Linked DNA regions of Homo sapiens. The protein of the gene in region 1 purifies or fractionates together with the protein of each later gene. This does not show direct contact. Each region holds a gene or a part of one and is shown in the gene's direction. Other genes may lie near its edges.

What was found.
Region 2: the proteins of ZNHIT6 (region 1) and ZNHIT3 purify together in Homo sapiens (affinity purification with western blotting, with the first as the bait; one study listed by BioGRID). This does not show direct contact.

What each region holds. Positions count from the first base shown.
Region 1 is NC_000001.11:85,659,716-85,663,540, reverse strand, and holds part of ZNHIT6 (box C/D snoRNA protein 1), read left to right. Parts: intron 1-1,263; coding exon of another isoform or gene 1,264-1,282; exon of another isoform or gene 1,283-1,423; intron 1,424-3,825. UniProt on the Homo sapiens protein: Required for box C/D snoRNAs accumulation involved in snoRNA processing, snoRNA transport to the nucleolus and ribosome biogenesis.
Region 2 is NC_000017.11:36,492,759-36,496,404, forward strand, and holds the end of ZNHIT3 (zinc finger HIT domain-containing protein 3), read left to right. Parts: intron 1-54; coding exon 55-141; intron 142-1,167; coding exon 1,168-1,248; intron 1,249-2,464; coding exon 2,465-2,646; 3' UTR 2,647-3,064; downstream 3,065-3,646. Other genes in the region: MYO19 (unconventional myosin-XIX), read right to left, coding at 3,493-3,646.

The sequences.
Region 1 (3,825 bases):
TAGACACTAAGTAAATATTTGAGCAATCAATTGAAGAATAAATGCCAGGCTAATGCTTATAACATTTTCACATGCATTAATTCTAATAAAGTATGTACTATGTCTTCTCTACTTTACCTGATTAGGAATCGTAGGCTCTGAAAAATTGACTTACCCAAAGAAACTAAGTTTGTACAGTTTATAAGGCTAAGATTTGGACTCAGACCTGTTTGTCAAGAGTTCAGTTCATGCTTTTTCTACTAACTAGTCTCTGTCTCTGTCATAAATCATAAATATAATTCCTGATAAGTATGTCATTTCCTTGCTAGGAGTGCCAAATTACTTTTGGAGTATAAAATCTTATTACTGATGCTAGCTTAGCAAGTTACACTTTGGAAACATTTTCACCTGTTATAGTCCTTACAAACTAACCCATGAGTAGGTATCTTTCCTACCATTATATTGATGGGCAAAACTGAGTCTCCTTGTGGAGTTATAGCTCATAAGGACCAGTGATAAGACTGGAACTCAAGCCTTGTGGATTTAAAAGTAATTGAATTTACCAGCGAAAATCAGAAAAGATTTCAAAGAAATAATATCTAGAACAAGTCAGAGCCTTGTAAGCCCCTCTTTAAAACAGGTTTTAAAATATATAGTTGGCCATTTTATTTAACCACATCCATAGTTTAAATATCATGGTTAGAATAGGATAATTTACCAAATGCAGTTCTGAACTGGTGAGCTTTCTGAATTAAGACATATGTCTGTACTACACAATTCATGATCTACTCTCCATGTCAAGCAGGTATCGTCCTCATTTATGTGGATATATAAAAATCCCAAAACAAAGTGCATCAAACCACTAACTTAACTACTGTGATTTTTAAAATATGAAAACTAAGAGAGATTGGGTGAGAAAAAGATTAACTATGGCAAAATCCTTTTCTATATGACTTGAACATTAGGAGTTGCAAAAATTGTTACACAGAAGTATTATTTGGAGAAATTTTAAATAATACCTTTTAAAGTTTAAATAAAAGAAGAATTAAAACTTTTTTGGAATAATTTAGTTGAACTTTTAATCTAGAAACCTAGATTGAGAAATAAATACAACTGTGAAAAAATATAGTTAAGTATCAAAAATTGTAGAAATTTAGAGCTGAAGGGATCTTAGTGATCACCTAATTCAATGATCTTATTTTAGTGGAAAAATACTGTGGCCTAGGGCCTGCTACTAGATTGCTAAATTTGGAGAAATTCAAACTTAGTTTTGGTATTTTTTAGCAGGTGGAAGGGGCGATGATCCATGGAGTGTCAGTGATCAGATGGGACATAAAGTGGTTTGTGATTTCGTTTCTTTAAAAACTTGTCTTTTGTGGTTATGAGGAGGTTTTTTTTTTTTTTTTAAAGCACACTAATTTGCTAATAAAGTACAGAGAAAGAAGTTCAAGAGCTTGGCCTGTTTCTTTGAAAGTTAGTGACAGAGTCAAGATTAAAAGCACACCCTTGATTATCATGACAACTTTTATTTATATATGTCACTGTAACACCTGTTTGGCCCACTGAGCCGTTCTGCCCTCATAATGCGCCCATGAGGCTGCCCAGAGCAGGGTCAGCCAGTGAACCTGTGAGGGTGAGCAAGTGAAATAACAAGAGGAAATGTCTAAGAAGGGTCCCAGAGGGCAAGAGAAAAGACAAATGTTAGTATCTTAATTCCTCCAAACCTAAGTAGTTTGTCTTATGGTAGCAGAGACATTATATTAATGGAAATACCAGAGTTTGTGAAAATTTCAAAAAGATAAAGCTGTCCCTTAGGATTCAGTAGCTTAATGGCTTGCAAAGGAGCTAAACCTAAGTGTTTTAGGCAGTGCAAAGCTGGGCTCTTAAAACTTGCTTCAAGATAGTGGAAACAGAAACATTCAAAGTACCTTTATCTTCTTGGAAGTAAATGTGACAATAAAATAATGATTTGAAGGTCATACAGAAAGTTGTAAGGCTACATTTAAAATGCAAAATGCACATAAAGGCAGTATGTTCACTGCTAATGAAATCCAGTGACTTTGTCCTGAACTAGAGTTTCTATAGGAAAGTGTTGTTATTTTTGGTAAATAAAAATATAAAACAAACACATGTGCTTAGGGCTTAAATAAATGAGTGAGCAGTTTCTGTGTTTTATCATTTAGCCCTCACAGTAACTCTCTGAAGTGATACTGTCATTATCCCCATTTTCAAGCATGGAAACTGAGGATTAAATAACTTAAGTAACTTGTCCAGGATCACAGACCAGTGAATGATGGAGCCGGAACTTTAACTCAGCGTTAAACTCCAAACCCAAACAACCAGTAAAAGTTATTGCTTCATTTAACTAAATTCCAAGTCCATAAAATATTAACCCCATATGTGTCTGATAGGCTTTCTTTATGAACAGTTTACAAAATTTACTTTTAAATTACTGATAAATATTAATGGTAGATTAAGAGTAACCACTTGTAGTAGAAAAATCTAAGAAATTCAGAATTTCAGCTAAAAGATTATTTAGTGAAATCTGAACGCTTCATTTAACAGGTTGGAAAGCTGTGGCCCAGAAGCTTACTGACACTCAATAGCGTATTGCTGATTAGAAGTTTGCAACATTTTAGGCTAAACACTAAATAAAATCCACTGATTCTAATCAAAACCACACAACATACCAGATTTTCATTGCATAAAATATTTTTAAAATAATTTATCAGTTGACAAGCCTCTTATAAATCTTTGCATCCTTAGTGCTTTTTAAGTGCCTGCTTAGCATGTAAAACAGGAACCAAGTTTTTTTAAGTATAATCATTACAGTTTCAGGATCCAAGTAAGTGTAATCATTACAGTTTCAGGATCCAAATAAGTGTAATCATTACAGTTTCAGGATCCAAATAAGTGTAATCATTACAGTTTTAGGATCCAAAGCATGTTTAACTTGTTGCATAGTAATTTTTATGTACCTCTGAACATTCCTCTGCTAGGAACATATTTTATATCAGCAATAATTTTAGGCTCTGATTCTCATGTGGCCTTTGAAGAACTCTTTTTGTTGCTTCTTGGTTTCAGCTTTGGAAATCTAGAGAAACCCAATTAAGATTTAATATTACAAAAAGAAATCAGATACCTAAAACATTAAATATGCACTGAAAATTATTTACCAAAAACTGAAACAAGTAAAAAACATTCCCTTATTTGAAAAATGCCTTTCATTAGAAGCCTTATGATTTAGCTAAAATGCACAGAAGATAAGTTATTGCCAAGTGCTTGTAGGATGCCACTTGAAAAGTTCCTGTTTGAGAGTCCAGGTCTTATTTCCTCCCAAGAAAAATTTAGTTATCACCATTTTATATTTTACTTTGTAAGTTAATCTTTTACTTGGGTATCTGATATAATCTCATTTTTCTTTTTTATATAATTGCTACTAACTTTGAAAAAAACACTGCTTATTTCAAAGAGAAATAATGTTTAAAAGATGTGAAGCATTTAATCCTTGAATGCTGGAAACACTTTTAAAGTATTGTAAGTACATCTGTATTACATTACACACAGGGAAAAGAATGTATGAATTCTATGATCTGTGGGCACTAAGGTGGCTGGTTTAGAAAAACAGTATTTTGCATTTCAAGTTTCTTTTCAACATAAAGAATATTCTGCAATTTTAAAAAGAATAATTCCAGGCTGGGGTGTGTGGTCAGGGAAGCATAAGTAAAGTTTTGGTTTTACAGTTGTTCTCTAACTTTAGTAAGCTTGGCTCTGCATTTTGTTAAGCACTTTTATATTTTTCCTGATTTGAAAACGATTGCGTGAGACAAACTCAGAACATGGAGA
Region 2 (3,646 bases), on another chromosome or scaffold:
AGCCTTGTCGCTGAAATGGAGGTAATGTGGGCCTGGGATTTGTGTCTTTTTCAGAACAGTGCAACCCTGAAACTCGTCCTGTTGAGAAAAAAATAAGATCAGCTCTTCCTACCAAAACCGTAAAGCCTGTGGAAAACAAAGGTGGGTTGGTTGACTTCAAACAAATCTACAAGGGACTTCACATAGAATAAGTCGAAGGAAAAGGGGAGAGTGGGGCTGGTCAGGGAATCCAGAACAATAGCTTCATTGGGAAGGAACAGCTTCCTTAGCCTTGAGCATCAGGAGTGGGGCCATGTCATCATGGGTGATATTGAGGCAACAGCCTGAAAGCAGTATTCAGGAGAAGAAAAATGGGCAGAAGACAGAGATGAGAAAGGCCATGGCTGTGGTTTGGGGGTTTGCGGTGGGCCCTGCTGGCAGGAGCCTTCTCTAGCCCATAGCTGCTGGTCTCCCTCCATGAATCTGGCTGGGACTGTCAGTTCACCTGAACTCAGCCCAGGCAGGAGGCTTTCTTTGTCCTAGATCATCTCGCTGCTGCTGGGGGTTCAGAGCTCACAGCAGTAGTGGGCTGTCAACCCATCCGTCCAGCCATCTAAACGTTCTTTAATACCTCCTGGGTGTCAAGCACCATGCCAGGCTCTGAAAGCAGCCCCTCTGGTGCCACCAAAGAGGTATTGAACATTCACTCCAAAGGCATGGCCCATTTTTGCCCTTTGAGAAATTTCCAGGTTGGGTTCAGGCAATGCCAGCAGTTTCTGCCCATGCTGAAAGCACAGGAGATTCTACTTGGCTGGTTTTTACAGAGCATCCAGTTAATTGGCCCATCACAGGGTTGGAGCCATGTTGAGGTGGGGATGGGTATTAAGTTATTAGACAACCGGGGTCTAAGCCTAAAGACCACAGGACCACATATACAGTAAGGATGTGAACACTAGAGTGCATTTGTTAAAATCACCAATTCTTTCACTTAGCCTCCCTCTTCTAAAAAAGGAGTGTTAGTATAGTCACAGACTCCGGAGAAGAGGATTTTTGTCTGTACCTGCTTGAATACCCCTATCACTATCACATGTGCGTGCACACATTTTTATCCTGTTCAAGTAGTGGTTAAAATCTGGTGCCCAGGCCTCCTTTTTAGCCATGAGCCATTGACTGTTTTGTATTCCTTAGATGATGATGACTCTATAGCTGATTTTCTCAATAGTGATGAGGAAGAAGACAGAGTTTCTTTGCAGAATTTAAAGAATTTAGGTAAGTCTGTGCTATGCTTGTCAATCGTTGAGATACATTTACTGTGTTGTAAGGATTGTGATTTTTTAAAAAGTTTTTAATTTCTTGAATAAGTATGGCATGTAGGGCTCTTACTATCTAGCCACATAATCTGTAAACATACAGGGTTTCACACCTCCCAGCCTGCCCACACCATTCCTTCTGCCTGGAATCCTGCTGGTCTTGTGGGTTGGCAAAATTCTGCTCCTCCTTCAAGCCTTGGTTCAAGTTTTCTTCACTCAGCTAAGCTTTTCTTGACCTTTTGTGTCTCTTTCAGAATTAGGCACTTTTTTGGTTTCCCATAGCAACTTGGACTTAATAGTAATAAATCACTGTTACATTTCATGGTAATTTGTCTCTCACATACCGATTTGTACAGCAGGGACCTGTATTCCCAGATCCCCAGTGCTCAGCTCACAGTCCAGCCCTTAACACAAACTGGTTATCACATGATTTGATTTAGGGGGAAACAGGTGTTGCCATTTTTGTAGCACTGCTTATTCAGTCCTTACAACATTCTGTTACATGTGCATGGGGTCTGTTAATTTCATTCTTCCCATTTCACAGAATCATGTTAAAAGGTTATGTTTTGCACTTAGTCTCATGGTAATGATTAGTTAGACTGAGTTTGGAGATGAGCTAGTAATAGGTGTGAAAAATTTTACAGACTGTGAAGTACCATGCAGGTATTATTGTTGGTTCCCTGCTACTGGTGCTGCTGCATGCCAAATGGCATGCTTAGACATCATTCAGATTATTTCGTATAGCCGTCTTCACCACTGGCAACTTTTATGGCTAGAAAGAAAGAAAACATGCCAGCAGCTTAATGCTACTATTTGCTTTGTGATTGTGCTGATAAAGCATTTTTTTCTTAGCTGAAGTGGCACGAAGTTACAATATTTACAAAGATACCAAGAACTGGTATCTGTTACTGCATTTAATGCGGAAATAGTTTGATATGCTGGTCTTACCTTTCATTTTATAGAGGTGGGGTCTCGCCATGTTGCACAGGCTGGTCTTGAACTCCTGAGCTCAAGCAATCTGCCCACCTTGACCTCCCCAGTTGCTGGTATTACAGGCATGAGCCACCACACCTTGCTGATAGTTTTATTACACTTGAAATAGCTCTTCACTTTTCAGCCATCTCCATGTGTTTCCACTTGAACTCAGACTGGCTTTTTTTCTTGTTAATTTTTAGGGGAATCTGCAACATTAAGAAGCTTATTGCTCAATCCACACCTCAGGCAGTTGATGGTCAACCTCGATCAGGGAGAAGACAAAGCAAAGCTCATGAGAGCTTACATGCAAGAGCCTTTGTTTGTGGAGTTTGCAGACTGCTGTTTAGGAATTGTGGAGCCATCCCAGAATGAGGAGTCTTAAGATGGATTATTGTGCTGCTTGCTCAAGCGTGTGCTTGACTCCTGGAACCTGCCTGCTCCCTCTCCCAGACCAGCTAGTTTGGGGCTGGGGAGCTCAGGCAAAAGAGGTTTCCAGGATGCAGATTAGGTCATGCAGGCCTTTACCGGCATTGATGTGGCTCATGTTTCAGGCAGACTTGGGGTCCTTAAGGTGGCAAGTCCTTTATGGAGAGAAAACTTGACATTCAGATGATTGTTTTTAAATGTTTTACTTTTGGTACAGTTGATAGACATCATAAACGATATCAAGCTTACACTTCATATGGAGTTAAACTTGGTCAGTGTTAATAAAATCAAAACGTGATTCTACTGTACATTGCATTATTCATAATTTAATTGTTTGAAATTACATTAAATAAATCAACTAATTAAATACTAAAGTTTTGTTCCTTTTTAAAGGAAATAACCACAAGATTTTTCCCAGCCCAAATTCCAGCGCCAATTTTAGGCCAACTTTGGCTGTTTTCTTCCAAAAGTGCTTATGTGGAATTGGGATCCCCAGTGTAGTGACAGACAGTCATGACTGCTGCTGAGTTTGATCTGTGAAGGTAGTGAAATGTGGCCCTGATGTTTCTTAACCCTGATTTGGTAACTACCAGCCCTGACACCATCAGTGCTTGATGTAGCCTGGAACCCCAGGCCCACTGACGCACTGGGCACGGGGCTCTGGGTCGAAGGCTGGAGCCGTCACTGTTGTTCATGTGCATTTGGAGCACTGTGGGAATAGTCTGGCAGCTGTGTGCTGATTAAATGTCTTTGGCAAGGCAGGGGGCAGGAAAAGGCCTTGTGGAAACAAAGGCACCAAGGATCACCCCAGCCCAGTGAAGGCAGAAGAGGTCACGTGGATCAGCCTGTGTCTTTCCAGCAGAATCTGATTAAAGCCTGTAATGCTGTAGGGTGAAGGTTCAGGGCAGATGTCAGCATACCGCAGTGGAGACTTTCTGCAGTGAAACTTTATCGAT